Homo sapiens: one gene and its partner. The protein of the gene in region 1 interacts with the protein of each later gene in a pairwise test. Each region holds a gene or a part of one and is shown in the gene's direction. Other genes may lie near its edges.

Evidence for each region. Proteins that work in one complex are often made in the same cells at the same time.
Region 2: the proteins of CCDC90B (region 1) and SDHAF2 interact in a two-hybrid assay, tested with the Homo sapiens proteins (one large-scale study listed by BioGRID and IntAct).

The regions. Positions count from the first base shown.
Region 1 is NC_000011.10:83,258,581-83,262,367, reverse strand, and holds the end of CCDC90B (coiled-coil domain-containing protein 90B, mitochondrial isoform 1 precursor), read left to right. Parts: exon of another isoform or gene 1-401; coding exon 402-457; 3' UTR 458-2,259; coding exon of another isoform or gene 2,260-2,311; 3' UTR 2,312-3,287; downstream 3,288-3,787. Other genes in the region: ANKRD42 (ankyrin repeat domain-containing protein 42), read right to left, coding at 2,260-2,311.
Region 2 is NC_000011.10:61,436,624-61,440,123, forward strand, and holds part of SDHAF2 (succinate dehydrogenase assembly factor 2, mitochondrial), read left to right. Parts: intron 1-1,001; coding exon 1,002-1,225; intron 1,226-1,380; coding exon 1,381-1,490; intron 1,491-3,500.

The DNA.
Region 1 (3,787 bases):
TTAAAATTCTCTTCTCACAGATATATGTATATTTTACTAGCCTAACTACGTAATTTTTTAATATAAGAAAGATTTCATTTATCATGAGATCTGAAATTAGAGCTTATAATTATTTAAAGTAGTCAATAATGCTAGCGTTAATGATTTTAAATACAGGTTATAGGTTTCTAAATGACATAATTTACATTTTAATATACAGGTGCTTTTAAGAAGAATTAGGCATTAAGGCTGCCCTTAAGAATGTCTTTCATACTTAATTGTCTAGGGAATAAAAAACATAGGATAGAAAATTGGTTGGATTTCCTGTTTTTTGCTCTTCACTTAAAGATAACATTATTCTCTTTATCTCTGCAAAATAATTACAGATACAAGACCTATAACACAGTTTCTTCTTTTCACAGCTTCGGTGTTTACTTGCCTGGCAATAGCATTGGGATTTTATAGATTCTGGAAGTAGTATTAATGCTCATCCTGCTGTGGCTGTTGGCTTCTTAGAACACCAAACCGGGAGAGATTTACTTTGAACATTGTCAGTTGCAGCAAAAATTTACTACACAAGATTATTCGAAGTGTATACGGACTAAAAGAGGAAGTGTTTTAGAATGAGAAGAGATACTGTGTCTTTATTGTGTGTGTGTGAGTGCAGGTGTGTGTCTTTATTATATTGAAAAGCTGTCACTCAGACCTGGTTTGAGATAGAAGAGCATTTTGTCCTTTTGATAGTTAATAGAAATTGAACCAGAGTTTTCTTATGTTTGCTTGAACAGTTGTGTAAATCATACAGGATTTTGTGGGTATTGGTTGAATATTTGTAAACCATTCCCTAGCCTACATATTTATTACTGAATTAACTTTCCTGATAACCATTGCATAATTACATTTTTCTATAAAATGAAAGATTATTACAACAAAGTTGTGTGGGTTTTCAAAGTGACTTACCATATAGTTGGAGATTGATTTCTTTTTGGTAATGAACTAAAACAATAAATTTTAAAATGATAGGCCAGGCGCGGTGGCTCACACCTGTAATCTCAGCACTTTGGGAGGCTGAGGCGGGTGGATCACTTGAGGTCAGGAGTTCTAGACCAGCCTGGCCAACATGGTGAAACCCCGTCTCTGCTAAAAATACAAAAATTAGCCAGGCATGGTGGCACATGCCTGTAATTCCAGCTACTCGGGAGGCTGAGGCAGGAGAATCTTGCAGTGAGCCGAGATAGCACCACTGCACTCCAGCCTGGGTGACAGAGCAAGACTCCATTACCTAAATAAATAAATGTGTGCTTTAGTGCAAATTACAACACTTAATATGAAATCTGTAGAGTTGCTAAATATTGAGCTCTGATTATTACATGTATTTTTTAAATATTTGATACTCAAAAACCAGTTTATCCCTGCTTCTTAATGTAGTTTAAGTTAACCCATCTTAAATTTATTACATAAAACAAAGCTTTTCTTAATGACTTCAATTCAGCAAACATTGATATCTAGTACCTACTCTCAAGAAACTCATAGGAAAATTTAAATTCGTATTTTGTTTTGTTATTAGATATATTTTTTCTTACAAAGTAATATCTATTAGTAAATCATATGTAATTTCAAAGAAATTTTAAAATATCCTTTTCATCTTAGTTCTTCAGTCTTACCCAGATCAAGAAGACAAGACCAGAAAGTAAACATTTTGAGTTCATAATGCCTTGGTAATAGCTATAAAAGTTTGACAATCATTATTCAAAATAGCCTTGTCATTTGTTTAGCTATAAACAGGGAATCTGCAGTATAGAGCAGTCAAGAGATTGGTCCATATGGTCCAGTGAGTGAGAGTCAGGCTTTCCAACTATATTTTCCTCAAAAATCTAACTGCTGGTTTGTTTTCAAAAGAAAAACCTTGACATTATCCTGTTACATTCTGATTCATTTTTATCTCTATTGCCTAAGAGAGTTCTTAGTATATTATAGATTAATTTTCACTGAGTCAATTAATAAGTTACCATATATATTAAAGTCCACTGTAACAAAGTATACTGCATTTGTTCAGTTAACCAATATGACTGCCTGCTATATGCCAAACAGCATGCTAGTCCCTGTGTGCACAGAGATGAACATGGTTTCATTCTCATTGAATTGACAATCTTAAGGAGAGAGACATAAACAAGTAAATTATTGGTTTGTTAAGATTTAAAATATTCTAAAATATTAAGAGGGAATGCGTCTTTCCTCCATGTGAAGGAAGCTCCAGTAGCATAACACTGTCGTCACTCTTCATCCCCTTATCCACTCTGCCCTAGGTAAAGTGACTTGCCCAATTGTAAATCTGGAAGGAGAAACAAGGTGCAATTAGCCCACTTCCTCCCCACTCCTGTTTGGGACCAGCCCATCTGAAGAGACATTCATTCTGTTCTGCTTCTATGGGATCAGGCTCTGCCTCTGCAGGATGAGGCCTGGCCCAGTAGAGCAATGCTTGAGACAGGGTAAATCTGTCCAGTTCTAGAGTTCAGTGATAAGAAGCTTACTGGCCTTAAGATGAAACCCATATTCTCTTGCTGAGCACAGTGGCACACATCTATAGTCCTAGCTGCTTGGGAGGCTGCGGCAGCAGGATTGCTTGAGCCAAGGAGTTCATCAAGGCTAAAGTGTACCATGATCATACCTATAAATAGTCACTGCACTCCAGCCTGGCAACACATGAGACCCTGTCTCCTAAAAAAAAACTTCTCCAATAGTTTTATCAGCAAATAAAGGTGTTTTTTAGGCCTCTATATTAGTTTATTCATTCTTCATCTTAGTTATATTCACAACCCAGAATGGAAAGGAGGTATGCCATTTATTGGACCTTCTCAAGCCCCAACAAATAAATATACTTATTCCCAGGTTATACAGCCACTAAATATTAAATAGATCTGCGTTCTTTCTCATTGTAGGGGTTTAGCAAACAAAGTGCTTTGTATCCAATAACAGAAGAATAGAAATATGCATACCATACCCTGTCCCCATTACTTTTAGATCCTATATCCTTTCCATGAAACTTCATTTTGATGGTGGTTCTGGGGTTCAGGTAAATTTTTGTTTCAGTGATGGAAATATATGAAATAAGGATGAGAGGATTGTGTTTCTATATGCCTTAAAACTATACCTCTATTCCAGCACTTGCACTTCACTATGAAACAGCAATTATACGTATCTTTTTCCTACACTAAACTACAAGTTCTCAGAAGGCCTCTAGACACATGTGAGGTACTTGTTAAACGCCTGTGGAATAAATGATACTCATAAATCTCAGTTGACCTTAATCCAAACTTTTTAATATTTTAAATATTTAATTATGGGTATGCTGAAAATACTGCATTCATACTGAGTGAGCGTAATACACCTTTTAGGCATTTTCTATGAGTGGTAAGAAGCCTCCACAAGGATTAGCTACTTTCACCATGTTTATAGCCACAGTGTAGATCCTAACCTGCCTATCCATACTGCTTTGGTGACAAAATAGGCCAGGCAAGAGTATGTAAGGACTTGGCAAGAGTCAGGAAAAACCCTCACCTATTGGAAAAACAATTAAAAGCTTATAATGTTGTCAAACTTGAAGAATTTGGATATGTAACACTTGTTTATTTTTTAAGTATTTTTTAATATTTAAAAAAAGGGCAGTGGGAAAGGCTGTAGTCATTATCACTGAAACTACTGATTGCTATTTTGAAAAAAAATAGCTATCATTGACTATATGAGGGCAAATATGCTAAATAACATATATGTGCTCACCTATTTTCACAGCTCTCCTCTTAGGTAGATG
Region 2 (3,500 bases), about 22 Mb from region 1:
TCATGATCATGCTTGAGCAGGGAGGGAAGAGACTATGGCAAATGAGTGCTACAAATTTTTCTGCTGGATTCGATGCAGCTGGTTTTGTGCTCACCTGGGGAGCAGGAGCCTCTTACTGGTTTCTGGATTTCTCACAGGGAATTGGTTTGTTTGTTGCTGTTGGCTCAGTGTCTCCATCGGGGAAGGAGGATCTGGGGTTTCCTACTCCACCATCTTCACCTCTTGCTGAGGTCACCACCTTGACATCATATCTTGATAAGTTGTCAACTTCTCTGGATTGGGAGCCTTTGGGGGATTAGGGATCATGCTGTCTCTGTGTGCTCAGGATTTGACACAGGTGAGTGAGTAGAGTATAAACCACACTGTAAGAATTTTAAGGGAGTGCAAAGGAAGGAAAAATTATTTCTGCTGGGATAGTTTCTGGAAAGGCACTGGTTAGGGACACATTTGCAGTTAGGACTGTGTTTTAATTCTAATTGCAGTTACTATTTGGATGATTTTGGGTGAGTTATTGAACCTTCCTGAGCCTCTGTTTCCTTGGCTATAAAGTGGGGACAATATCAGCATAATTTCTTTTCTTTTTTCAGGGGGATAGGGTCCGTTGCCCAGGCTGGAATGCAGTGGTACGATCACAGCTCACTGCAGCGTTGACCTTCCCAGGCTCAGATGATCTTCCCACTTCAGCCTCCTGAGTAGCTGGGACCACAGGCACCATGGTGGGACTACCCCACTATGCCTGGCTAATTTTTGTATTTTTGGTAGAGACAGGGTCTCGCTATGTTGCTCAGGCTGGTCTCGAACTCCTGAACTCAAGTAATCATGCTCGCGTTGACCTCCCAAAGTGCTGGGATTACAGGTGTGCGCCACCACGCCTGGCCAGCAGTGTAATTTCCTCATGACTAAATGTGATTGAATGCATTCAGCACCTAGTAAGCATTGAGTAAATGATAGCGATGATAGTCGTCATTATTGTAAAGATGTTTGTGGTTTGTTCATTTCAGATGCTTGCTCTGTCAAGGCACAGCCTATTGTCTCCTTTGCTCAGTGTGACATCATTCAGACGCTTCTACAGAGGTGACAGCCCAACAGATTCCCAAAAGGACATGATTGAAATCCCTTTGCCTCCATGGCAGGAGAGAACTGATGAATCCATAGAAACCAAAAGAGCCCGCCTGCTCTATGAGAGCAGAAAGAGGGGAATGTTGGAAAACTGCATTCTTCTTAGGTATGGGACTAGGAGTCTTTTTTTTTAAATCGGGCAGCTTCCTGAGCCAGAGTAGGTTCAGAGAGACTCCCAGGAGTAGGAGTCTTGGTGTCACTTCTCTTTTATTAGACACAGCCTTCTCAACCTCTTTTTCTTTTTTTCTTTCTTGTTTTTAGTCTTTTTGCTAAAGAACATCTGCAGCACATGACAGAAAAGCAGCTGAACCTCTATGACCGCCTGATTAACGAGCCTAGTAATGACTGGGATATTTACTACTGGGCCACAGGTACTGGGTATGATAAGCAGCATAATGTGAAAATAGGACAGTTTAGGCTGATTTGAGTCTAGAATTGTATCCTAGATAATTTTTTTCTTTCTTTTTTTTTTTTGAGACTGAGTTTCACTCTCGTTGCCCAGGCTGGAGTGCAATGGCATGATCTCGGCTCACTGCAACCTCTACCTTCCAGGTTCAAGCGATTCTCCAGCCTCAGCCTCCTGAGTACCTGGGATTACAGGCATGTGTCACCACACCCGGGTAATTTTATATTTTTAATAGAGACAGGGTTTCTCTGTGTTGGTCAGGCTAGTCTCGAACTCCTGACCTCAGGTGATCCGCCCGCCTCGGCCTCCCAAAATCCTGGGATTACAGGCATGAGCCACTGTGCCTGGCTTATAATTTTTTTCTTTTATTCATGAAGTAGACACTCAACCCAAACACTGTTCAAATTTTTGTTAAGTGTACAAAATTTATCAGTTAAAGTTCTTTATTTGCGAGACAGAGTGGAAACTTGTTTGTCTCACTTAAGCAAAAAGGAATTTAGTGGAAGGGTATATGAAGCTCACAGTATCAAAGGTTGAAGAAGAACCACTCTGGGAATGGAGTGGAATCAGACAACTAAGTCTGCATAGCCAAAGCTCCTCAATAGTTTCATTCTGGCCGGCCGCAGTGGCTCATGCCTCTAATCTGAGCACTTTGGGAGGCTGAGGCGGATGGATCGCTTGAGGTTAGGAGCTTGAGAGCAGCCTGGCCAACACAGCGAAACCTCATCTCTCCAAAAATTCAAAAATTAGCCGAACATGGTGGCGGACAACTGCAGTCTCAGCTACTTGGGAGGCTGAGGCAAGAGAATCGCTTGAGCCTGGGAGACAGAGATTGCAGTGAGCTGAGATTGCACCACTGCACTCCATCCTGGGCAAAAGAGTGAGACTATGTCTCAAAAAAAAAAAAGTTTCATTCAGGCACTACCTTTATGAGGAATGAATTCTAACTGTGTATAGTTAGGATTAACTTTGGCTATGAGTAAAAAAACATCCAAAACAGTAATGGCTTAAACAAGGTAGAACTGTCTTTCTCATGACAGAAGTCCAGAGGAAGGCACACTCCAGAGCTCATAGAGGGGCTTCAAAAAGTCATGGGTCCAGGTCCCCCCTACTTGCTGCTCTTTCATCCTAGCATGTGTTTTCTACTTCTTGATCCAGGACAGCCATATTTCAGCCCGGAAAAAGTGTGTGGAAGTGCATACCCCTCCTTTGTAGATCCCGCTCAGGAAATTATCCAGCATACTTCCACTTATTTGCCATTGGCCACAGCTTAGTTACTTGGCTACGTCTAACCATAAGGAAAAATAATATAGTCTATTCCATCTGCCCAGCTGTGTTGGAGATTCTGTTATCGATGAAAACTGGATATTAGGGGACGTGTCATTCATTCTGCCACACTCCGGGACTGCTGTTTTTGTGTCTCCACTCAATATTTGTATCAGAAAGTAGCAGCCATTGTCTATGGGTTCCAGGTATGAAGAGTGATAAGACAGAGTCTGGAGCCTTATACAATCACTGGAAAGCCAACAAAGTCCAAATATTTACTCTCCAACCCTTTACAGAACAAGTTTGCCCTGACTTAGCATAATGCATTTGAGATGCGTATCCTTGTTGTTACTTGTATCAATAGTTCATTCTTTTGTGTTGAGTAATATTCCATTGTGTGGATGTACCATGGTCTGTTCATCTTTTGACCAGCTGAGGGACATTAGGATTATTTCCAGCTTTAGGTGATTATAAATGAAGCCACTGTAAACATTTGCATACAGATTTTGTGAACATAGGTTTTAGTTTTTCTTGAGTGAATACTCAGGAGAAGGATTTGCTGGGTCATGTGGTAAGTGTATATGTTTAACTTTATAATAGGGCCAGGTGTGGTAGCTCATGCCTGTAATTTCAGCATGAGATCACATGCTCCTCCTCTGGGAAGCCGAGGCAGGTGGATCACTTGAGGCCAGGAGTTCGAGACCAGCCT